7 linked regions of the Homo sapiens genome follow. The protein of the gene in region 3 purifies or fractionates together with the protein of the main gene of each other region. This does not show direct contact. Each region holds a gene or a part of one and is shown on either strand. Other genes may lie near its edges. The genes, in order: SLC25A51, FNDC3A, BTNL3, ABCA2, ITGA5, SCARB1 and ATF6.

Evidence for each region.
Region 1: the proteins of BTNL3 (region 3) and SLC25A51 purify together in Homo sapiens (affinity purification with mass spectrometry; one large-scale study listed by BioGRID and IntAct). This does not show direct contact.
Region 2: the proteins of BTNL3 (region 3) and FNDC3A purify together in Homo sapiens (affinity purification with mass spectrometry; one large-scale study listed by BioGRID and IntAct). This does not show direct contact.
Region 4: the proteins of BTNL3 (region 3) and ABCA2 purify together in Homo sapiens (affinity purification with mass spectrometry; one large-scale study listed by BioGRID and IntAct). This does not show direct contact.
Region 5: the proteins of BTNL3 (region 3) and ITGA5 purify together in Homo sapiens (affinity purification with mass spectrometry; one large-scale study listed by BioGRID and IntAct). This does not show direct contact.
Region 6: the proteins of BTNL3 (region 3) and SCARB1 purify together in Homo sapiens (affinity purification with mass spectrometry; one large-scale study listed by BioGRID and IntAct). This does not show direct contact.
Region 7: the proteins of BTNL3 (region 3) and ATF6 purify together in Homo sapiens (affinity purification with mass spectrometry; one large-scale study listed by BioGRID and IntAct). This does not show direct contact.

What each region holds. Positions count from the first base shown.
Region 1 is NC_000009.12:37,887,128-37,890,627, forward strand, and holds the end of SLC25A51 (mitochondrial nicotinamide adenine dinucleotide transporter SLC25A51), read right to left. Parts: intron 1,466-3,500; 5' UTR 1,424-1,465; coding exon 530-1,423; 3' UTR 477-529; downstream 1-476. UniProt on the Homo sapiens protein: Mitochondrial membrane carrier protein that mediates the import of NAD(+) into mitochondria. Mitochondrial NAD(+) is required for glycolysis and mitochondrial respiration.
Region 2 is NC_000013.11:48,978,912-48,982,411, reverse strand, and holds part of FNDC3A (fibronectin type-III domain-containing protein 3A), read right to left. Parts: intron 1-3,500. UniProt on the Homo sapiens protein: Mediates spermatid-Sertoli adhesion during spermatogenesis.
Region 3 is NC_000005.10:180,995,346-180,998,845, reverse strand, and holds part of BTNL3 (butyrophilin-like protein 3 precursor), read right to left. Parts: intron 1,634-3,500; coding exon 1,358-1,633; intron 1-1,357.
Region 4 is NC_000009.12:137,025,438-137,029,649, forward strand, and holds the start of ABCA2 (ATP-binding cassette sub-family A member 2), read right to left. Parts: upstream 2,801-4,212; 5' UTR 2,704-2,800; coding exon 2,638-2,703; intron 2,475-2,637; exon of another isoform or gene 2,027-2,474; intron 1-2,026. UniProt on the Homo sapiens protein: Probable lipid transporter that modulates cholesterol sequestration in the late endosome/lysosome by regulating the intracellular sphingolipid metabolism, in turn participates in cholesterol homeostasis.
Region 5 is NC_000012.12:54,412,767-54,416,266, reverse strand, and holds part of ITGA5 (integrin alpha-5 precursor), read left to right. Parts: intron 1-3,500.
Region 6 is NC_000012.12:124,815,365-124,818,864, forward strand, and holds part of SCARB1 (scavenger receptor class B member 1), read right to left. Parts: intron 2,344-3,500; coding exon 2,186-2,343; intron 1-2,185. UniProt on the Homo sapiens protein: Receptor for different ligands such as phospholipids, cholesterol ester, lipoproteins, phosphatidylserine and apoptotic cells. Receptor for HDL, mediating selective uptake of cholesteryl ether and HDL-dependent cholesterol efflux.
Region 7 is NC_000001.11:161,961,445-161,964,570, reverse strand, and holds the end of ATF6 (cyclic AMP-dependent transcription factor ATF-6 alpha), read right to left. Parts: 3' UTR 501-3,126; downstream 1-500.

The sequences.
Region 1 (3,500 bases), on a different chromosome or scaffold from region 3:
AACATGGTGAAACCCCGTCTCTACTAAAAATACAAAACAATTAGCTGGGCGTGGTGGCGGGCGCCTGTAATCCCAGCTACTTAGGAGGCTAAGGCAGGAGAATTGCTTGAACCCTGGAGGCGGAGGTTGCAGTGAGCCAAGATCGTGCCACTGCACTCCAGCCTGGGCAACAGAGCAAGACTCTGCCTCAAAAAAAAAAAAAAAAGTATAAGCCTAACTTTGTCACTAGTCCTAAGGAGAAACTTTTAACCACAAAGTTTTTATCATTGAAGACAATATTGAACAACCCCCTATTTTGTGAGGATTGAGAAGGGGTGAATAGAGGCTTGAGACTTTCCTTTGTGTGGTAGGACTTGGAGGAGAAATCCCCTGGACTTTCACTAACCCTCTGACCTACTCCCCACACCCAGTTGATGGCTTTCCATAATAAGATTGGGATTTCCTTTAAAAAAAAAAAAAAAAGAGGCCAAACTGCATTCTTCTTAGAAGGTCTATTCAGTTGATAAATGGCACTTAACTGATGGTTTTTTCATATAACCTTTAACAAGAACTCATAAGTTGCATTGATTATGCCCCAAGAGATGAGGGACCGATGGTAATTCAGATGGGCACCTCTGAAAAGATTTATCAGTTTTCTGTCCCGTTCCAGCCAGATTTTTTGGAAAACCTTGGGGAAAGACTGAAATTCCCCACCAATCTGAGACTGTATGCGAGTTTTTACAACATTAATTGGAAAAAACAAGAATCCCAACATGGCACCCAATAGACCTCCACAGATAAAATCATTGACCAGATGAGCACTGTGAGTCGTTGCGGTAGGCAGATGCTCCTTAATGGGACCTCGAAGGCCGAAAAACAAGACATTGCTGAGTCCATTCCGGAAAAGAATGGGCACCAAGCCTCGATAATACTCTCCAATTCCATGACATTTCAGTGCCTTGAAAGCCTGGTAAGTGTTGGTAAATTTGTCATGATGCTTGTGGTCTTGAAGCAATGTCTGAACTCTTTCCAGTGGAGTGAAAATTGCTTCTGTTGTCCCTGCAAGCACTGCCGCCACGCCACTGGTTGCAAACTCTGGAGCACTGACATGCTTGTGGAGAAGGCAGGATAAATCCTCATACAGACCAAACATAAGTGCAAGCGTAGTTGTCTTCTGCATCAATGGGGGAAGGATTCCACGATACAAATTTCGAAATCCATCCCTTCTCAACTGAAGTATTGCATCCCGGGTTTTGATGCCATACAGCTGTTGTCGAAAGAGGACCTTCTGAATGGGAAATGTGATTGCGACATTGTTGAAGGCTGCACAGCAGCCACACAAGTAATGCTTCATCTCACCAACATTTGTAATATGAGGTGATATATCTTGTTTTGAAGATGTTAGTATTGGTGGCCTCTTTTCATGAGCTTCTGAATCCATCATGCTGCTTAAGATCTTTCTTTTTCATGAAGGACTTTTTTTAACCTACAAATAATAAATGACAACGGGTAAACCCGTTTTATAGAGAGCTAAACACATGGGCTTTCTCCCTAATCCATCCTCTAATATCTGGACACCACACTTTCCTTTTCAGACTAGATCAGTGATTCTTAAAGCATTTTCAGAAGACCCCTGGAAGTCCCTGAGATCCTTTTGGGAGTCCAGGAGATTTTCCTTTTTCAAACTACATATCTATGTGAGGCTTGATTTTTTGCATATACTTTAATCAAAATGACTTATCACAACAGACTGAATGCAGCAAACAGGAAACTCCATCTTAAGTCAGACATGCAAAAGGCTTAGAAAACTGTAAAATATTTTCTAATGACTGTAAAATCATTAGAAAAAAATGGGAGGCATGAATGTTATTTTTCATGAAAATGTGTTAACATGTAATGTGTTTATCATTACCTTAAAATTCATATTTTAATTTTAAATTCCTAAAGACCCTGAATATCAGTCCACATAAACAAAGGGTGTTTGGGGCCCACAATCATTTTTAAGACTGTAAAGGAGTCCTAACACCAAAAACTTTCAGAGCCACTAGACTAGTTCGTAATTACTGACTACACTATATACGGTATCTATCTATTGTCCTGCTGAAATAGGCCCACATTCCTCCCCTGAGAAATAAAACAGCAAGACATGCACTCATTCTATTCATATTTATACTTCTTTGGTACCTACTATGAACTAGGTCCTCTGCTAAGTTGCTAGAGATTCAAAGATAAGGAATTCACAAACTAATAGAATGTGCCAAGGTGAACAATTACACCAATGTGACAGCTTCTATGATAACCAACCATTGTGGGAACACAGGTAAGGGACACTGAACATGCACCTTGGAAGGTGGAGGTGTGGGATGATGGGGGCAAGGAAGGCCTACAGGTATGTACCATGCACTCTATTTTCATGTATGAATTCTCAAAACAACTCCACAATTATTTTTCCAGTTTTACAAATGAATAAAACCAGTATTCTCTTTTGTTCTGTTCAGGGCACAGCTAGTAACTGGTGGGGTCAGCATTCTGAAATGAAGTCTGAGTGATTCCAGGGCTCATATCCCTGCTACCATATCACAGATGGCAATGACTTTGTGAGGCTGCCCTGGGATAAGAGGTGGCTATACTAGATACTGCTGAAAATGATTGGAACTAAGCCAAAGTTCCACCCCTATAATACACCTCCTTCTGTAAAATGCATGATCTTTCCTTGCCAGTCATCTAAATCTGATTCCTTCTCCCTGAAAAAATCCAGATCCAAATAGCTGGGTCATACAGAATAATTCCCACCTTCCAGTTCTGGTCTTGGAAATCACCTTTATTTGGGGGATAACATGATAACTGTATATTGTATCTTAGATATAATAGAAATATATAGAAACTTCTATATATTAGAAATATATATAAATATATACACACATATGTGTATGTGTGTGTGTATATGAGGCTAAATATTTTTTAATTGGATTTTAATTCCTTAACAGTAAGATACTGGCCAGGCATGGTGGCTTATGCCTGTAATCCCAGCACTTTGGGAGGCTGGGGCAGGAGGATTGCTTGAATCACGAGTTTGAGACCAGTGTGGGCAACATAGAGAGATCCCATGCCTATGAAAAAGTTAAAAATTAGCTGGGCATGGTAGCACATGCCTGTAGCCCCAGCTATGTGGGATGCTGAGGTGGGAGGATCAATTGAGCCAGGGAGGTCAAGGCTGCAGTGAGCCATGATTGCACCACTGCACTCCAGCCTGGGCAACAGAGCAAGACTCTTGTTTCTAAAAATAATAACAATAATTTAAAAATTAAAAATAGTAGTCAGGCGCAGTGGCTCACACTTGTCATCCCAGCACTTTGGAAGACCAAGGTGGGAGGATTGCATGAGGCCACAAATTTGTGCCCAGCCTGGGCAACATAGTGAGACTCTGCCTCTACAAAAATCAAAATAAATTTTTGGGGCATGATGGCGTACACCAGCTACTGGGAAGGTGGAGGGAGAAGGACCTCTTGAGCCCAGGAAGT
Region 2 (3,500 bases), on a different chromosome or scaffold from region 3:
TTACTAAAGAAACAAAAAGGTACTTCATAAACTATGAAGGTACTATGCTAAAAATTTTTTTTAGGTATATATTACAAATGAAAATATTACATGGAAAAAAATCAAGTCATAAGAACAAAGACATAATTGAGAATGTCTGTCTTAAGAAAACAAAAAAAATTTAGAAAATTTAAACATAAAATCGCAAATTATGAATTTTCACTTTTTATTTAAGCAAATCTTAAGAAAAACTGATTTTAAAGTAAATGAAATGACTAATCCTTCAAGTTATGGCTCAACAAAAGTAGTTGCTGTATATGGCATATACTTCTATAAAGCAAAGCACGTAATTACTTTCTAATAAAAGTCTAAACTGTGATTTAAAGTGTACTTAAATATCTGTTTAGAACCCCTAGAGAAGTAAGATTTTTTTGCCTCCCAAATTATGTGTCTGTCGGTTTAGAATATACATAAACCAATTAAAGTAATCCCTCACTGAAGAAGTAGTGAAGCGAAATCATTTAAGTTTTTAAAAGTTCAAATATATATTAAAATATGGATTCTGAGGAAAGAAAACAGATACAACACTTTTTTTTCCCCCAGCATTTCTGATAGAGGCTGATTAACATACACAATCTAATTTACCAAACTTAGGTAACTTTTACACCAAGGCTTACTTCAAAGTATACATTGCACTTTGTATTTCTAGCAACTAGCACATAAGAGATCTCAAGAAGTGAAGGAGAAAGAGATATGGAAGTCAATCAGAAGTATAGTTCATCTGTAAAATGAGAATACCACCACATATCTGGCAGGTTTGTATAGGATTTTAAAAATAAGCAAGTATAGGTTCTAAAATTCAATGAGCTCAACTGAATGTTTACTGGAAACATACTATGTTTACAGAACTTTGGAGGATAAAGCTTGAACTCTGGTCTTAAAAAAAAAAAAAGGCTGCATTGCTTCCAATATAGTAGCATTAATGTAAGCACTTTTATGGTATGTATTTTAATGCTTTTATAGTTTCCAACATCTCTGTGGGTTCTCACAATATCTTTGAGGAAAACAGGATAGATATTATTCTCTATTTTAATGCTTAGAAAACCAAGATTGCAAGAAACTAACCCAAAATCATATAGGTAATAAGTGGTGAAGTTAGAACTAAGAACTAGACTTTTGAGTCACCATCCAAGGTACTTTAATTTACCTCTTGTTTAGCAAATGGAAACAGCTGGCATGGTGAAGCTGTTTCAAGCATTCACAAAAAAAGAGGGAGGGCATGAATTTCTCCTTAAACTAAAATTTAAAAAGTAAAAATTGTATTAAGTAGCAATTTATGAAGGCTGTTATTTAAATCAAAAGCTTTATATTGCCTTAAAATTACGGTACTGTATGTACTAAGTATGAAAAATGCTAATAATAAATTAAAGTACAAAAGTTAAGTTTCATGATTTTGTTTGGTTGGTTTTAATGTTTTTAACAGGAAGAAAGAAGCATCACTGATTCTGTCCAGGTTGCTTCCCATCTTATACATCTGTACTTTTTCCAGCACCTAATACTAACCCTGATATATGGAATGTACTGATGCCTGCTTAATGAAAAAATGCTCTCATGATGTATTCTTGCTCTCTTGATGCCACAAAAAATACAGTTGCCCCAGCCAATTGATTTGTGCAGCCACAGCGTGAGGCATCACTATTCACCTGGTAATGGCACATGAACCACAGTATACTGAAGGAAACAGAACTGCCTTAGAAATAGATATCTATAAATTTAGAAACTTCAGAGATGTTTCATGTAAATTACTTTTCAAAACAGCTGATACTTATATCCTTTAAATCACCATAACTTATCTTAAAAAAATCTTAATTATTTGTAAAGAGATCTCTAGGTCTTTCTTCCGTGCCTTAATGTGCACATGATATAATCTTTTCTTGATGACTCAAGCTCATCAATGTAAATATCAATTATTAGACTGTTCCATAACAGAGTGATTCTTTCTGGAGTACTGCAGAATGTCCAACTGCTTGTCCCTTTATTAACTCATCCTAGACTACTTCTAAAAACAAAGATCCCTACTGCCTGCTCCTCTGTTGTCACTTACAGACCACCAGCATCCTAGACAAGGTTTTTAACCTGCCAGCTGTTTTTAAAAATGTAAAACCAGCACAGGCAGTTGATACACCTAACCTTATACAAATTCTAAATCAAGCCACTGTGTAGCTATTTTCACTGTAGTAAGGCCTGACTCAAAGGCTTTTCGTCTTTCACTTCCTAATTCTGAGACCTATTCTAGGCTCTTGTTAGAAGTCTGGCCACAAAATAACAATTACAGAAGCACTTATTTCTACATACTTTTTTTTTAGGATAACATAAGGAAAAATATATACATGATAGTCATAAAACGCCCAAACCACCATATAGACAAGATGATGCAAGAAATTTCACAGTATGTGCTATATGGACAATTACTTTGCCAATTATTACCTAGCAGTCAGCAAACTAGGTCCCCTGGCCAAATCCAGTCCACAGATGGCTTGTTTTTGTTTGGCTCTTGAGACAACAATGTAAAAATTTTTACGTTTTTAAAAGATTATAAAAAACTAACAAACAAACAAGAACATTCAACCGAGACTGTAAATGGCCTGCAAAACCTAAAATATTTAATTATCTAGCACTCTACACAAAAAGTTGGCCGACCCCTGACCTAAGCCATACAAACAAACACATATAAGCTATCCATTATACATAAAGCTTAAGCTATTAATATGTCAAAGCTGAGGTATAGTTCTTTCAGTGATAGGTTCCTAATGATACAAACTGTCTTGTCCAGCTCTGCCTATTTTCCTCTTCTGATGCCCTGGTGCTTAAGCTAACATCTCGACCTAACTTTCTTTCTTTCTTCGTCCCAATTTCTGTCCTTGGATGCTCTTGGACTACTTATTCTACTACTACTTCCAACTCTGCCTGTGAATCTCTTTTGGAATGCCTTTCCTTTTGTTATCTAAATCATTTCTAAGTTTCCTCTGACTCCCTCCAAATGCCTTCCAGGATTGTTCTAGCTCTCACTGGCTTCACTTCCCTTTAAATTCCAGTTGGTGTCACACAACTTAATAATACCATATTATAATTTTTGCTAATGATACTATTAGTCTAGTACCCCCAACTAATTTGTAAACTACTTGAAGGAAGGAAGACATCACACTATGTTTGTATCCCCACTTTAATAACATTGCATCACCCTGCAAGCACATGACATCTCCCAGGTGTAGTTCTCAATCTTGGAGGAAAAAATAGCCCAAGGACTGGTAATGGGTGATAAGTGATTGGAAACATTGAAAGATGACACCCACAAAGGAACTTGATGGAAGACCACAGGTTACACAGAAAACTTGAAAGTATATATTAAAGACAAGCAAAACCACAACAGTGGGAAGACAGAAAGGTAAGAATAAAGATATAAAAAGAGACCACTGAATAATTATCTGAAATAAGACCAAAATATTAAGAAAATTATAAAA
Region 3 (3,500 bases):
CAGATAAAATTTTGACTCAGAAAACTATATTAGTTCTATTTTACACATTATGATAGATTGTAATTTTATTATCATTCAGTTTTAAGAATTTTCTACCTATCACTATGCTTTCTTCAATTTCTCAGTTATTTTAATGTTTAAAAATTTTTCAAACACATAAGAATTTAAACTATCTTTTGCTGTGGTCATTTGACTTTATTAAATTATGATTAGAGAATTTCATGTGCATGATATCTATGTCTGAAAATTTTCTTAAAACCATTGTATGTGTTTATATCTGGTAAAATTTTATAAAAGTTCCAAGTGTGGTAAAAATTAATGTATATTCTACAAACCTGGAGTGCCATCTCCAAAAATACGTTATTTCAGACTTATTAATTTTTAGTTCAAATAGTATATATTCTTACTCATTTTGTCTACTTATTTAATCAATTTTAGAACTCGAAGTATGACCTTTTTTCTTATTTCTGTTGATATTTTCTATGTTTTACATGTATAAGGTACATGTATATATATTTAAAATTTTCATATTCTTATACTGAGTGAACTTATGTTTTTGAAATAACTCTATCCCTAATGCCCTTTTTCTTACAACTTTGTCTTCCTTTTCTTGACACTAATATATCTGTTCAATTCTTCGTGATTAATATTTCTCGAGTATTTTTTATTTTCAATGAATAGCTCATATGTGCTACATTTTTCCTCTTATGAATTGCCATTGAGATTTTTAGTATTTGTCTATTTTTATTTTTATTTTTATTTTTACATTTTTGAGATGGAGTCTTGCTCTGCCACCCAGGCTGGAGCACAGTGGTGCCATCTCGGCTCACTGCAACCTCTGCCTCCTGGGTTCAAGCGATGAGATTTTTAAATCCAGTCTGAGATTCTTTGTCTTTTAACTGGCAAATTCAATCCTTTTAATTGAGTGTGATTCTGGAAGCATTTTAGTTTATGTAAATTTTCCTACTATTTGTAAATCCTTTCTGAAATTTTCTACAGTTTTATTCTGCTTCATGAAGGAGCAACGACGTTTTCTAAAAATGAAGAAACAATTATTTTCTTAGTCCTAGAGTTAATTTCCTTAAGTTTTGTTACGTGTTGAGTTGTGAGTGTTGCACCATGGGGGTATTGTGTGGTGAAGGAAATACTTAATTCTACTGCCTTGAAATTGTAAACTATTCTACTTCTGCCTTATCAAATGTTTGGTTTTGTTTTTTATACCTCATCAATCTTTGACTCTCAAAACAAATCATTGAAGCTGGATGGTACTACACAACAATCCCAGACACAAGCTGCTGCTCTACCCTGGGTTACGTATGCACACACCCATTCCTTGCTCCTCCTTCTCCCCACTCACCTCCTATCAATACCTTGGATTCCACCTCATGACTCTGCTCAGCAAGGTGGATGGAACACAATATGCTCCCAGCATTTTCCTGGACTATAATGGAGATCTCCACATCATACAGGCTGTACCCATCTGCATTTGCTCTGGAGTCTGAAGACAAATCCTGTCCTTGTGGACCTTTCCACTTGGCTGTGGGCTGGGGGAACCAGCCTGAGGACAGGCAGAGTAACTGGATACCTCCGTCAACATATCCCACGATGGAAATGAGAGGAAGTGAGCCCAGTGCTGGGAAGAAAACAGGGAAAGATGAAAGCAAAGACCAAATTTCAAGCTTACAGCATTTTGAGTCTGGTTCATCAAGCCTGTACCCATAACACACATACATCCTTTTCTCTCTCTCTCTCTCTCACACACACACATCCTTTTCTCTCTGTCTCTTACACACACATCTTTTTCTCTCTCTCTCTCTTACACACACATCCACTCATGCTACTACTGCAAGCCCTTCCATGGTCTATGTTCATTCAACATTTATTTAGCAGCCACTATATATGCCTGGATATTCCTAAGTATGAAATAGGATGCAGTGAATAAGACACAGCCCCTTCTAATGAGAAACTCATTGATCAAATAGTGAGGAAACTGTATAAAATACATTTCATAGTGAAATGGCAACTATGAAAGCATGGTCAGGTTAGCACAGAGAAGAGTGCTTAACTGTCAGGGAAAGGCACAGCTTCCTGGAGATGACATTTGCACCCTTCTGTGTCAGAAAATAGGAGTTTTGTTGTGGTCAGGTCTGGGAGAGGGGAAGCATTTTAGACAAAAAGAGGCAAGTACAAACCACAATGTGAAAAGTTAACATGCCACAGTGATTTCAAGGACTCATGAATATTTATATTCCAGATGATGTATAAGAGAGTAGGGGTGTGAGACAAGATCTGAAAAAGGCACAAGGCAAGCCGTGGAGGTCATACCTTCACTGACCTGAGCAACGTGGACTTGCCCACAGCCACTTTAAGAACTGTAGACCAGTAAGGCTCTTACCAGCTTCCAGCAGGTGGGAGTTATGGCAAGGCCTGTATGTTAGAGAGGTCTCCAGGCAGCAGCATGGAGGAGGGACCATAGAGAACACTCCGGAGGAGAGTGACCCGCCATGCAACTACTGAAGTGACTCCAGTGAGAGAAAAGAAGGGCTGGGGAGGAGGAGGGCTCTGAGAAGGGGAACGGCAGGTGCAGAATCTATTTGAGAGGTTGAATCAATAGGACTGAACATCAAGGAAGGGTTTATTGTGACATTCAGATTTGTGACTTGGGAAATATGCAAAAGTACCTCTTATGTGGTTGACTTCAATTTTATGATTTAATATTGCCTTTTAACCACTCCAAACAGAACTTCCTCTCTGAGTGTTGTACTCTGTCATTCCCTAGGGTCTGGATCAGTGCATGGAGCCTAATAAATGTTTGTTAGTCAATAAATTAATGAAAGAATGATGGTGGTGTAAGCACCAAGGAAGGGGGCTCAAGTAAGATGATGTAGACTTCTCTTCCTTGCTCCTTTCTCTAAGTAAAATCATAAACCCTAGAAATGCGGCAAGCATAGGTGCATTTTGAAAAGTGGAAAGACTAAGGAGGACTGACTAGGGACCCCAGGAGTAGAAAAAAAACACAGCAGCTGAGCATCCTATGACCACTCCCCCACTCCCACCTCCAGCAGAAGTAGGTGGCCCAGCGGGAATCTTTCCACCCCTAAATGGCTGAAAATACATGATATACAAAGTGGTGCTGGCAAAAGAATTGATCATAAGCCCCATTGACTGGAGACCAGGGGAAGAGTACTTTTTCCCACTATGCCAGATGATCACCTCTCTCACAAGAAACAGTGAGGAGCAACATGGGAAAACACCTTTTACTGCCACAGTTAGTACTAGAAAGGATGAGCAGAATCTCCAGTGACATCAGTTAAGCAAAGTAGACCAAAATAACACAGTAAAGTCTCTGAAAATTAAATTGTATTTGGAGCCACAACCACCAAAAATAGACTAGGACCTGAGTCATAAATCTAAACATGGTGACTGCCTGCAAAACAGAAGCTTTACATAGGGTCTAGAGTATCTTACAATAGTTAAACCATTTAGATTTCAACTAAAAA
Region 4 (4,212 bases), on a different chromosome or scaffold from region 3:
AAAACCCTTCAGAGCCCCCAGTGTGCTGTGTGGCCCGGGCCGAGTCCCCGGTCCCTGGGGTGGGGGCGGCTGCTGTGTTTACTGTGCTTGGACAATAGGGCTTTGTGGCCAGGAACATCATGCTGTGGGTGTCCCATGCCCGCCCCAGCCCGTGCCAGCCTCCACCCGCTCCCTGAGCCAGGACGGAGCCCAGGGTTCGCCAAGGCACTGTGGGCACCAACAGGCACCAGGGCGAGGGTGGCTGCAGGAGTGAGGCAATGTCAGAGGCAGGGGTCACAGCACGGGGCGCCAGCCCCGCCCACACCCGGCCTGCTATGGGCACTGTAACTGCAGCAACAGGCCCGGCTGCCTCCCCCATTGCTATAGCAACGGCCTCGCACGAGCTACTGGGAGGAGGAGGAGAGTCCTGGCTGGCAGGCGGCGGGCGCCACAGCAGCATCTGGTTACAGGCGGCAGCACAGGTCTAGCACGCCCTGGGTGCCCCACACAGGTGCCTCCAGGTGGCCCAACCTCCGTCCCTCGAGACCAGCCCAGTGCCTTCACATCGCCTGGAGGCCTAGATGCCTTCTCTGGGCATGACCCCTCCCTGTAGCTCCCGCCTACTGTGTCGGGGGGAGAACAGGTGAGACCCGAGGGTGGCGCTGCCATCTGCCATCCCAGTGACTTCATGACAGTGACCCTGTCCCTGCACCAAGAGCAGCCTGTAGCCCAAGGGTAGACCCAAGTCCAGCTAACTAAGAGGAGATAGGCCACACTCACAGACAGGGAAACTGAGGCAAAGAGCTTGGAGGAGCCTGCTAGCAGCACAGAGGTCCTTGGCACCCACCCTCCAGACCCTGAGCTCTGCCCAGGGTGGAGCTCTGCCCAGGGTGCACCCCTGCCCCAGCAGGGCGCATGGCACACAGGGCAAACCTCTGTCATCCAAGCTTGGCCCCAAGAGTCCAGCTCTGATGTCCAAGATCCTTCCCAGGAAAGTGGGGACCCAGCAGGAGTGTGCCCAGTGTCCAGCCAGCCCCAGCCCCACATCACAAGCCTGGCAAGGACTCAGCCTCCCTGGGGGAAACAGTTCCCCACCTGCTCCAGCCATGGGCTAAGGACCTCCACTGTGGCCCAGTGGGCCTCTGGGAGCCCTGTAGGGTGGGGACCCAAAAAGGTCCTGGGGGGCAGCCCAAACCAGCAGCTGGGAGTCACTCTTGCGGTCAGGACAGTGCACACCTCCCACCTGCTTGCCAGCTGCCCTCATAGGCCACACTCCCTTCCCTGAGCATTGTCCCCACTGGAACAGGGGCCACCATTCCAGCCTCTGCTCCCAAGCCCAGTGGGGACCTTCCTGACAACCACCCCCGGGGACTAATACTAATGCATGCCACATGCCACATCCCTGTTCCCTTGGCCCTGCTCTGCTGTCCCCAGTGACTCAATGCCAGGGGCTGCAGGCCTGATCCATGGGACCCCACTCAGCCAGCTCCAGGTGCCTGGCCAGGGCATGTACCTAACCCAGGCTCCCCGCCAAGGCCAGGTGCCCAGGGGAATTCTGCCAGCCATGGTGATGATGGCCACCCCAGCTGACTGCAGCCTGGGTTTCCTGCAGTGCATGTTGAAAGATAAACAGGCACGGACTGGTGCAGCCCAAGGGGTCCCGCCCGGGCCCTGGCTGGGCAAGAGGATGTCTGCCTTAGGCCCCCACCTGCTCTGAGCCCTGGCCTGGACAATCCCAAGGGCCTTCAGAAACCTAAGCTGGTCCAGGCCTGTGGCCTGGGAGGTGTCCCTTCCCTTCCCAGGCTGGAGCCAAGCTGGCCAGCTGGGGGTATGGCAGGACACCCATATCCCCAAGCCCCTCGCTCCACGAAGGACTTCTGTCCCTGACAGCCATGTGTCCTGCACCCTCAGGTCCACTGGCTGCCCAGGCAGTGCTGGGAAAGCCGGGGTTCACAGCTCCAAACAGTAGACCCAGCCCCCAGAGCAGGTGGGGGGACCAGGAGGCAACAGAGTGGATCAGGCTCGGGGAGAACTGACCCCAAAGGACAAATGGGTGCAGAGATTCAGGCTGGCCAAGGCTGGCACAAGGACATTCCCAGTGGCGAGAGCATGAGCAAGGGTCACGGATGTGCCAGGAGGGGAGGCGGAGAGATGCCTGGGACCAACCTCTATGGCAGGCCGCGGCCCAAGGGCAGGGGAGGGGTGGACGGAGGGAAGGGACAGGGTCTCCTCCGGGACCCCAGGGAGGCTGGGCCCAAGGACCATGGAGCCTCGCAGCTGAATGGAGCCCCCCAGGCCTGCCTTCTGTCCTGGGAACCAGGGCCTCCCTCGAGCCAGAGTCCTGAGCGCCGCTTGCCCCCCGCCCACAGCGGCCCCAGCGAGCGCGCTGCAGAGGGCGCGGGTGCCGTGACTCAGCCGAGCACCGCGATGTCAGCGGACGCGGGACCGGACTGGACACGACCGAGCCACCTCCCCGGAGGCCGCAGCGCCGGCAGGCGAGGGCAGGGCCCGGCGGGGAGGGGGCTCGGGCCCGCGCCGCCCCCAGCGCCCGCCGGGGTCTGCGCGCGCCCGGCCGTCCGCACGTGCGCGCGGGGAGCGCGCCTCTGGCCGCGGTGCGCGCGGCCTCGGGCTGAGGGCGGGCGCGTGGGGTGGGCTCACCGGGCTCCGGCGTTTGAGCGTCACGTTCTTCCAGAGCAGCAGCTGCAGCTGGTGCAGGAAGCCCATGGCGGGGCCACGCTCCGCCGCCTCAGCGCCGCGGCCCGCTCCTCTGCGCGCCCCGCCGGGCCCCGCAGCCCGCCGCGCCGCTGGGCATCGCCCGCGCGGGGGCGGGGCGCTCGGGCGTCCGGGACCCGATCCGCGCTGGCTCCGCCCCGGCGGCCGCGGCGACAGCGACTCTGCCCGCGCCCCGCCCGCCCCCGCTTAAAGGCGCCGCGCTCCGTCCGCGCCCGCCAGGAGGCGCCCGCCGCCCGCGCCGCGCCCGGGACCGACCCGGGCCCGAGACCCTGCGCGCGCCGCCGCCGGGAAGCCTCCGGGCCGCCCCTCGCCGGGCGTCACGCGACGCGCCCACATCGAATCCGAGACCCCGGCTTAGCCTTCGTAGGCCGGGGGACCCTCGGGCGCTGCGCTCTTCTCCCAGAGGCATCCGGCTGCGCCCACCGCGCTGGCGACTCTGCAGAGGCGCCCCAAGCCTTCACTGTCCCCGGGGCGCGCCGAGCGGACGCTGGCGAGGGGCCAGCTCACCCCCGTAAGGGTCTCCTGTGTGCTTTGTAAACCAGCACTTGGAGTCCAGGTGGTGCCCACCTGGAAGGGAGGCAGGGCGGCCAGGTGGGTCCGTCCCGCGATTCCGAGCAGCCAGCGGAAGGGGGGAAACTCGAGGCCCCAGGAACGCTCGCCGTGAGCGGAGCAGGCAGGGGACCGAGGCGGCCCCTGCTGCACGCGGCTCGTTTTTCTCCCCATATTCGGGCGAGTCTGGTCTCTGCACAGGGAGTTCGGGATCAGGCGGTTCTGCGGCTGTGGCTTGGCACCTGCTGGGGCGCCCCGGGAGGTGGGGCAGTTCCTCCGCGTGGCCTGTAGAGAGCGACAGAGGACAGGCTGACCCCATGGGTGGCTCTGACGGCGCTTCCCAGACTCAGTTTCCCCCCTGTGAATGGGGTGGAGTAGCGCTGTGTGGTGTCCAGTGTCAGGGCGCACATAGAAGGCGCATCCTCAAGTGAATGAAGACCTCCGAGGCCACAGCTCCCCACTCCTCCCAGCTCCTTTGCAGCAGGAAGGTGACCCTGGGCTAGTGAGTGAGGGATCAGCTTCCCACCCCAGCCCGCAGCCTCAAGGCACTTGCTTTTCTCTGCTCAGTCCACAGGGCTGGGTCAGGGCAGGAAGCTACCAGCAGGTCTTTCCCACAAGCCACAGCCATGGGTGAGGGGGGCTTCCTGCCCTCAACCTGCCCACCCCTACCTGGGGTAGGGACAAGCCCTGTGCCCCAGCCCCGGGGGCTTAGCCTGTTGGGGCCCTGGTCAGCACCACCCGTGGGTTGGCCTCTCTCCTCCTCGCCCCACTCTCCACCGTCCACTACAGGGGCTCCCTGGCTGCAGCCGCATCCCCAGTGCCTCCCCAGCACTGGCCACCAGAGGGAGCTACAAGGCACAGGTCAGACCCTGTCACCCCAGACACCCTCCAGCCTGCGGGCCTGGGAGATGGGCGATTTCAGCCTGGCCAGGCCTCTGACGTCCGTTCCCT
Region 5 (3,500 bases), on a different chromosome or scaffold from region 3:
GAAACCCCATCTCTACTAAAAATAAAAAAATTAGCCGAGCGTGCTGGCACGCACCTGTAATCCCAGCTACTCGGGAAACTGAGGCAGGAGAATCCCTTGAACCTGGGAGGCAGAGATTGCAGTGAGCTGAGATCACATCTGTACTGAGCGACCCCAGACTGGGCGACAGAGTGAGACTCCATCTCAAAAAAACAACAACAAACAAACAAAAAATAAAAACAACTGAGGCTTCAGGAGTCATAGAAATTTTGAACCAGAAGTTAGTTTAGGAAACATTCAAGGGAAATCCATCATTTTATGCCAGAGAATCCAAAGCTTGAAGAGAGGCAGTGACTTGGCCCAGGACACTTGAAAGCTTGAGAGGCAGGCCAGTCTCAGCTCAGCTCCTTGTTCCCTTCTGCAACTGCCACAAGTGGAGACAGCTGTTCTTCCCCAGCCAATCATACATATCCCTTGTGAATGCACTAGGGGACCCCAAACCAGGTGTCCTCCTCTGGCCTGGCCCATGCTGCTGTAGGACCTGTAGGAGCTGGGCGCTGGTCCACTTGCTGCTCTCCACCCCTGACCTTGTCAGGCCAACAGAGTCAAACAGTAACCCAGTATTGAACTGGGACTTGGTTAATCAAAAGCTGGGGAGATAGCAGATATGAGAGGAGGGAATAAGTTGGCAATGGGGTAGACTAGAATGCTGTCGTAGAAATCAGGATTCCTGATTTCTGCTTCATATTCTGGGAGGGATTATGAGTGACCTAAGCCCATTACTTAACTCCTCTGAGATAGTTTTCCCATCTGCAGAATGAGAACATGGGACGAGGTGAGCAGCTTTGAACTTTTTCTTAGGGAGTGTCAGAACGAGGCCAGTCTGCCTTTATGCCATGTGGCCTCAGGCACCTACAGTGAAGTCTTAAAACCAGTGGATGCTCTCTACAGTGCCTTCTAGCTGTGGTAGTCTGTGTCTCCAAGGACCAACCCTTCCATTTCTGAGGCTTCAGAATAAATTCTGGCAGTTATTTCTTCTCTCAGACTCTATTTCAGAAAAGTGTACCTGCCAACCTGCATTTAGTAAGAAATAATGAATTCCTTTTCTCATTCTTTTTATTTTTATTTTTTATTTTTTTGAGACGGAGTTTCGCTCTTGTTGCCCAGTCTGGGATGCAATGGCGCAATCTCGGCTCACCGCAACCCCCACCTCCCTGGTTCAAGCGATTCTCCTGCCTCAGCCTCCTGAGTAGCTGGAATTACAGGCATGTGCCACCACGCCCAGCTAATTTTGTATTTTTAGTAGAGACGGGGTTTCGCCATGTTGGTCAAGCTGGTCTCAAACTCCCGACCTCAGGTGATCTGCCTGTCTCAGCCTCCCAAAGTGCTGGGATTACAAGCGTGAGCCACCACGCCTGGCCGTTGTTGTTGTTGTTGTTGTTGAGAAGGAGTCTCGCTCTGTCTCTGGACTGGAGTGTAGTGGCGTGATCTCGGCTCCCTGCAAGCTCCGCCTCCCAGGTTCATGCCATTCTCCTGCCTCAGCCTCCCTAGTAGGTGGGACTACAAGCGCCCGCCACCACGCCCGGATAATTTTTTTGTATTTTTAGTAGAGACGGAGTTTCACCATGTTAGCCAGGATGGTCTCGATCTCCTGACCTCGTGATCTGCCCGTCTCGGCCTCCCAAAGTGCTGGGATTACAGGCGTGAGCCACCGCACCTGGCGCTTTTCTCATTTTTTATTAACCAAAAACATCTATAGCTGCCAATCAGAGTTTCTGACCAGCATGAGATAACCAGGTTCCCACATAAGTTGATATAATTCCAGCCAAAAGCAAATACACTTGAGGTTTTAATTAGCCTAGGCCACCTTATCTGGTAAATGCATGATTTCCGTTAGGCTTTCTGAAATATTGAAAATAGCACACGGACCCTCCATTGTTACCTTCTTAGACCCCTAAAAGTGCCCAACTGCTGCAGGATTTAGGAAGCAGGAAAAAGATGTGGGAAAATAAGGACAAACTAGCTTGCATGCCATCCATGGCACCAGTCACCTCACTTGGCGTGTTGGCAGGGGAGGCACTATTTATTGGATTGACTTTAGGTTGCTGGGATGGAAGGGCCACTGCCTGTCCAGGAATAAGCCATGGGTAGTGTGCCGGGAGGAAAGGAGGCCTAGGTCTGTGTCCCTTGCCTGCATGCCAGGTATCCTGAACCATCGCACAGCCGGAATGGATATGCCCCTGGCTTGTGGGCTTTACAAGCTTTGTAAACTCTCTGTCTTGCAACCCTGCTAAACTCCAGGCTACTTCCTCAGGCCACCCCAGGAGTGTCAGGCTCAGCTCCTCTCCAAGAGCAGTGGGTGTTGGAGAAATTGGCAGCAGGAATAGGGTCCCTTGGCCTTAGCCCTGTGCTCCAGGAAACTTTGAGAGAACCTCTTCTTCACCCAGAGGAAGAGGGAGAGGGTATTGCCCAAGTCCACAGTTAGTGCCTGAACCAGAACTCTTGGCTCCTGGTCCAGTGCTCCTTTCACTGCTTCCTGTACCTCTGCTGTTCTGGTCTAGTTCAGGTTGGTGGCCCTTTCTGCTTTCTAGAGCCTGAAGGCAGCAACCAAGTTCTCTGGGGGCTGCCCCTGCTGAGAGAGGGGTCTCCTTCTCTCACATCACCCAGCCCTAGGGCGGTGCAGCCAGACCCCACAAGTGGATGTCATGCCTAAGTGAGAAGGGTGGGGCCTGGCACGGAGGTGGGGGTGTGGGAGACAAACGGAGAAGTGAGAGGTTGGAAACAGACAGGAAGCCACAGGCAGTAAACATTTCCTGTCCCCAGAGTAACGGAGACTGGCACCTCCCCTCCCCACCCCTCCTAACTTCAGGAGCTCTCCCTCTTCAGCCTACCCATCTCCTATTCCTCTGGACCCTGCCTTCTCTCCCCTCCATTCTCACCACTGGCCCTCACAGACCCCTCCTCACTCTCCTCTTCCGTCCCCTCGGACCTGTCCTCTCTGCTGCTTCCATCCCCTATACCTCCTGGGCCACTCCTCCCCGCCTCAGTATACCTGGTCTTCTTGGAAAATACCCCCAGCTCTTGTGACCTCTACCATAATCCTTCACTTTGGGCCTTCTTGCCTAGTGAGAAAGCTGAGGAAGGTATTCAAATATCAGGGAAAGGGTAGGTATTGGACGGGTTGAAAGCTGAAAGTGAACAGAAACCAATAGAGATGGAGAAATGTAAAATCTGAGATAGAGAGATAGGATTCAAAAACCAAAACCAAGAGAGCAAGCAGTCATAGGGGCAGAGGGACAGAGGGATTGAGAAGCAGTGCCAGAGGCAGACACAGAGCAGAGCAGAGGCCAAGGCTGGCAGGAGCACTGGTCCAGAGGCTGGGTCGAGTTGCCCAGGCTGCCAGATACAAGTCCTGGCAGGAGACCCTTAGGGGAAACCAAGAGAGCCAAGAGCGGTGTGGAGGTCTTGGAGGCAAGAGACCTAGGGATGAATGAGGCAGAGCTGACGGCAGGAGGACTGCC
Region 6 (3,500 bases), on a different chromosome or scaffold from region 3:
CCATCTACAAAAGGAAGTAATCACAAGCCCTACTTCACAGGGCAGCTGTGGGGATTAAGCAATCAGATACCCAGAAAGCAATCAACACAGCCGCCGGGTGCAGAGAAAGCACGAGGTAAACATCAGCTGCTGTGACTGTTGCTGCTGCTGTCCTTATGATCTCTCATCTCTCCAAGCCACTCTCCACCATCCAGAAGAATCTTTGAAAAGTGGAAATCAGGTCGGGAGCAGTGGCTCATGCCTGTAAACCCAGCACTTTGGGAGGCTGAGGTGGGCAGATCACCTGATGTCAGGAGTTCAAGACCATCCTGCCCAACATGGCGAAACCACGTCTCTACTAAAAATACAAAAATTAGCTGGGCATGGTGGCAGATGCCTGTAATCCCAGCTACTCGGGAGGCTGAGGCAGGAGAATCGCTTGAACCTGGGGGGCGGACGTTGCAGTGAGCCGAGATCGCGCCACCGCACTCCAACCTGGGTGAAAGAGAGACTCCGTCTCAAAAAAAAAAGTAGAAATCAGATCGTGCCATGCTCTGGACCACAACCCCACTTTGCATGCAGGTTAAAATCAGGCTCCTAACGTGACCTCTGAGGCCCTCAGCAAGGCTCAGGCCTCGTCTCTCCACTGTCTCCCTCCCTCGTAACCCCAGCCGCACAGGCCTCTGTCCCAGCCTTCAGACCTTTGCACATGCTCTGCCCGGGACTCTGTCTCCCCAGGGCCTCTTCCCACCATGCGGGTCCAGTGAGTGTCCCTTTGCAGATGTGCTCCCGACCCTCCAGTCAGACCGAGCCCCAAGGCCACCCTCCCTCCTGCACTCCGGCTTCACACTGTTTTGTCTGCACAATACTGATGGCTGCCTGATTTCCCCTTATTTGTCCACTTCTTTACTCTCTCCCCATCAGAACATCAGCTTGGTGAGGCAGGGCCTTGGTCTGCCTGCGCCCCCAGCACACAGGAGGTGCTCAGTCAGTGCTCACAGAATGAAGGAGTATAGAGAGCTTTGGCATTTTTGCCCATTCTGTCCACTGCTGGGTCCCCTGTACTTAGAACGGCAGCCAACACCTAGCAGGTGCTCAGTAAACATTTGTTAAATGAACGAGCGAATGAGTGAATGAGTGAACGGAATGCAGCAGCTGATTCATGTTTCCCATTCCCAAACCTCAGGCACATTTGCTGGGTTTTCATCTTGGCTTTCCCAGAACCAGACTGTGGGTCTCCAACAGCGGGAACACCCTCTGCCCGCCCCATCCCTGGAACACCGTGTGCCGGGGGCAAGTCAGCTCCCCTGTCTGTGAACTGGGAAGTGGGGGTGTGGAGGAGGGGAGGTGCTGTGAAAACGCCAGGAGGTAAGGGAGTTGTAACAGGCACATCCGCCAGCCGTCTCAGAGCTCCGAGTGCATCCTGAGTGTCCCGGTGACCCCATGAAGGGGCTCTTGTGTCTCTCCAGTCTGCAGACGGGCAAACTGAGGCTCAGAGGAATGAAGTCACTTCCCCTAGGCCACAGCCAGGTACAGGACAAGCAGAAAGCAAAGGCACAACTCTGTGGTCCTTGGGCCAGCATGTTCCACAAACAGCTGACCCCTTCCCGTGCTGACCCACCCGGTCCTCTGGCCCAGATAGGGTCTGGGGGGTCGGTCCCTGCTCCTGGTCATGCATGTGTGTGTGTGTGTGTGTGTGTGTGTGTATGTGTGTATGCATGTGTAGGTACATGTGTGTGTATGTATGTGTGTGTGTATGTGTATGTACGTGTGTATGTATGTATGTGTGTATGTGTATGTGTATGTGTGTGTATGTATGTGTGTAACTCACACATGCACCCTCCACCCAGACGCACACCATTGGTCCCTCCCTGCTCCATAAAGAACCTCTCTAGGCAACGTCTGGTGATTCGCACCTGTAATCCCAGCACTTTGAGAGGCTGAGGCGGAGGATCGCTTGAGCCCAGGACTTCAAAACCAGCCTGGGCAACATAGCAAGATCCCATCTCTAAAAAAAAAAAAAAAAAAAAAAAAAACCCTAAAACAAAAACTTCTCTGGGACTAGCACTTACCCCGACTATGACTTGCCTGCTTCCGGAACAATCTCTGGGGCTCAGTCAGCAGCCTCCCCATCCCGTCCACTCTGAGACCCCTCCCCTGCCCAGCCTCAGCCGGCCCCTCCACCCTCACCTGGACACAGCCTCACCTGTACACGTAGGGCCCGCGCTCCCGCACCTGCGGCTTCTCGCCCTTCAGGATCTCGCTGGGGTTCATGACGTCAAAGAAGTAGACGGAGAGATAGAAGGGGATAGGGATCTCCTTCCACATGTTGAAGGACAGGCTACTGGGGTCGATGCGCACGTTCTGCAGGGGAAGGGACAAGTACGCTTGTGAGGAGAGTGATGAGGGCCCCACGCCCCACCACAAGGCTCCGGAACAGCTGCCCGAGCCCGGCCAGGGAAGGGGCTCCTCGGCGGGAGCTTGGGATAGGAGGTGGTGGGAAAGCCCTTCGCACATGAGGCTGTCGCACCTGGAGCTTATGGAATTAAACAGGCAACCTATCCATGCTGTCATAATGCATCTTAAAATATGTCCTAACAGCAACAGGTGACACCAGTCAAGGGACTGTGGTAAACAGGGGCCCATGCACCACCTAAAGGGAGCGCCGGAGCTCAGGGTAGCGGATGGGCTCAGGGCAGGGATAGCCTCATGCAGGAACATGGGCTCCGTGTGGCCAGGGGGATCATTCATTCATTCCACAAGCAAGCACTGAGCACTACCACCTGCCAGGCGGGTTCTAAGAGCTGGGGATGGGAGAATGACCAGGACAGACCAAAAGCCCAGCTATGTGGGGCTTTACCATAGCGGAGGAAAGGCAGGCACCAAACAACTCAGGTAAAACGCATGCCACGTGACAGAGCACAGAGAAAACACAGCAGGGATTGGGGAGAGACTGGGATTTGAGACAGTCATCACGTAAGTGAAATATAGGCCAGGCACCATGGCTCATGCCTGTAATCCCAGAACTTTGGGAGGCCGAGGTAGGAGGATCACCAGAGCCCAAGAGTTTGAGACCAGCCTGGGCAACATAGCAAGACCCTGTCTCTATAAAGAATAATTTTATTTATTTATTTATTTTTTGAGATGGAGTCTCACTCTGTTGCCCAGGCTGGAGTGCAGTGGCATGATCTTGGCTAACTGCAACCTCTGCTTCTGTGTTCAAGCGATTCTCCTGCCTTAGCCTCCTGAGTAGCTGGGACTACAGGCCCCCACCATCACGCCTGGCTAATTTTTGTATTTTTATTTTATTTTATTTTTTTGAGAGGGAGTCTTGCTCTGTGGCCCAGGTTGGACTGCAGTGGCGCGATCTCGGCTCACCGAAACCTCCATATTCCGGGTTCAAGCAGTTCTCCTCCCTCAGCCTCCCGAGTAGCTGGGACTACAGGCACCCACCACCATACCTGGTTAATTTTTGTTTTAGTTTTTGTTTTTGTTTTAGTAGAAGTGGGGTTTCACCACGT
Region 7 (3,126 bases), on a different chromosome or scaffold from region 3:
TATTAATAACCATCTTACAAAATAGGATGTAGAGACGATTGAAATAAGATAATATAGTTAATAAACCAGTGTCAGAGGTAATCATTGGGTGCTCAGTAAATGCCTGCATTAATTACTCCTGGATGGATCCCTTGCTGTCAGTCTGCAGTGACTAGCTTCAGGTGTGGTGGCATTTGCCATTGCAAGCTGGGAAGAGGCCTTTGGTGAGGACAAGATGCGTGACCGAGTAACCCACTTTCCTGAAGACATAGATAAAATATGGGTTTTTAGATTTTTTTTTCCTTGATAAGATTGTAGTTTAAATATCTGGACACTTAAATAAAGGAAATTTTTACTTAATTAGGCTTGGGAGAAGAGTGGAAAATAGTTCAACAGTTTCATCTGAACAGTAACACAAGCCACAAAGCCTTTTCAGGCTTCCTTTCCCATTACTAACCCCCCAACACTGAAGATTCATTTGGGGGCTTTTTTCTCTCTTTCTACATACAGAATAAACAAGGTAAGTTTAAAAATTCTTTATTTGAATTTTAGAGAAATAACAGGTAGTATAAAGACTTGCTTGAAAGTATGAAATAGTCTGTTGTTATTATTTCTTTAGGTTTTGCAAACCAACATCATTATTAAGGGAGAGAATGGTACATCTCTCCTCCTCATCTTTAACACGTTCTTCAATTGGCATGGGTACAACCTGAGCAAAAAGATCCTGGTGAAATGGCATCTCTAACACTCCCCCCTCAGTTCTAATGGCTCCATGGATGAAGCCCTACTGGACTTAGACCATCCATACTTGCCAAAGTGGTAACAGGAAACCAGTGCCTCTAAGGCTAGTAGTGCATAGTAGTTTTCATCTAAAGCTCTGTTTCCCCATCATCTCCTCTGTCCTGGTGACTGGCCTGGAAATTATGGCAAGGATGAGTTAAAATGGATCAATATACAATTGCTGTGAAAGTCAACCTACTAATCTCTAGCTGGGATTAACATAAAGGGGATATGCCAAGCCTCCTGGTTTATTCAACTTCATTGAGAGCAAACAGCACAATAGTGTTGTTTGTTGGCCTTGGCAAATGATAAATTATGATTTATTTACTCCTTAGTTACCAAACCTAATATAATTAAAAGTATTTTAGTGTGCTAAATCCCTAATGCTTAAAGTTAGCAAACCAATATGTTGAGAATGGCACCCACTATGTGACAGTGGCTGGCCATGACATGGATTCATGCGTAAGATCAAATTTTCTAATCAGATACCTTTGTCATTCTTCTTTTCATAAATTCTATTGCATCTAATAACACACATATTAGAACAAATGGCCGAAAGTTCTAGTCTTACCCAAAATAAACTGTTTAAAGCTTAGTCATTAAAAAGATAAGAACAGAACACACTTTACTTTCTTTTTTTTAGGTAGGAGAAAACTGCATTTCTTTTACGAGCATAGTTCCTTTTGGATTCTGGCAACATCTTTTTGGGTAGTCTAGTATTGTTTCCTAGGAAATTAAAAATCAATCCCAATCCCTGTGGGTGGAAGAAAATGGGAATATTCACTTCCAAATGTTATTAGGGGTGGGAACGAACATTTCTTATATTTCATTCTCTTTTAGGCTTTATTCTTGTTTCTAAAAGTTATAATTGGTATTCATATTAGCAGCAACAATCCTAATTTCTGTAAGTTAAAATGACTCAGGACTGATGAAAATAACATTTGTGGTAAGGAATATGGAGTCCACAGGTGGTAATAAGTGTCTATCAATTTTGGCAATTCACAATCTTATTTAAGAGGTTAATTGGTATGAAATAGCCAATAGTATGAAAAGATCTCAGTCGGCTGAAGGAAGCTGAGTCAGCCCATCAGTATGCAGTGGAAAGAGGGCTTTCATGGCTGGAAAATTTCCCATGACTTCAGAGTGAAAGGGGGCATCAGATCAGGCTCTAACTCTTCAGGCTGTGAAAGCAAAAGTGGTTACTTCTAATATGTTGTTGAAAGTGAAAGTCACTTTGAAACTTTGCAATGTGTTAGAAAGTCAAATACAATTATAAGTTTTTCCTGTAATACATTTCTGTCAAGTTTCACAACCTAAGCTTGGTAAAATGGCAAGAATCAAAAAATAGTAGGAAAGTGGCAAAGAGCTTGAGAGTTTTCCAGTTTTAACGATGCTAAATGCCACCACGGCAGTCTCACCAGCATCTCGCTGCGGTGACTACCGGGGAATACACACAGGGGAGGAAGGTTCAGGCTAAGATTTAGTCAGGATGATGTCTCTTTAAAAATGATTTGAAAAATCAATTTGAATCCCAAGTTCCTTTTCTGTTTCTAAACTTACTTGGAACACTTAAGAATGACTCACATAACATTGCTTTCAAATACCTCCGTGTCAACTTCTTACTGGCAAGAAATGGCAAAGAAATGCCAGTTTTGTGCTGGAACTTGTAGTCATTAAAAAAAAAAATTAGATGATGCTCTGAGTTTTATAATCGTGAGGGATTTTTTACTTGTGAAAACACAAATCCCACCCAAAACTCCATGTGAAGTTTCTGTACTACAAGCATGGCAAACAGCAGATTTGTTTCAAGGATGATCCTTTCACATTAACTCCTAACTTTGGAGTTAGTTTACACTAACACTCTAATGAAGCTGTGTCCCTGTACTGCTGGGCATAAGTCAACCCCAAAGGGACAAGCTCCTAACATCTGATTCAGTAGTTAACATGAGGAAACATCCACTTACTTCCATTAACCCTTAAAAATTTGGGACTTGCAACCAGGCAGAAAGACTATTCCCATCAGTCTCTACCATCACTTCCCAAGAGTGTATTATTGTCAGCCCCAAGAGCACAAAATCATCTAATAACAGGAGGACCTGCCTCCTCCATGAGTTTATCTAATTGTCTCATAAGCTTGCACAATCCTGTTTAAAATTTAATAAATAAAAAAATACACACATTACCCACAATTTCTGGCTGCAACCCCCAAAAGGCAATCCCACCAAAAAAAAAAAAAAAAATTAATCTGGCATGGCAACTTCTCATTTCCTAAAGGGCCTTGTGCATACAAACATTAAAATAAAAACTACAATTGTGCCTAGGGATTAATTATAGCTTTGCCAGCAATTTAAAAAGTGACTACTTCTT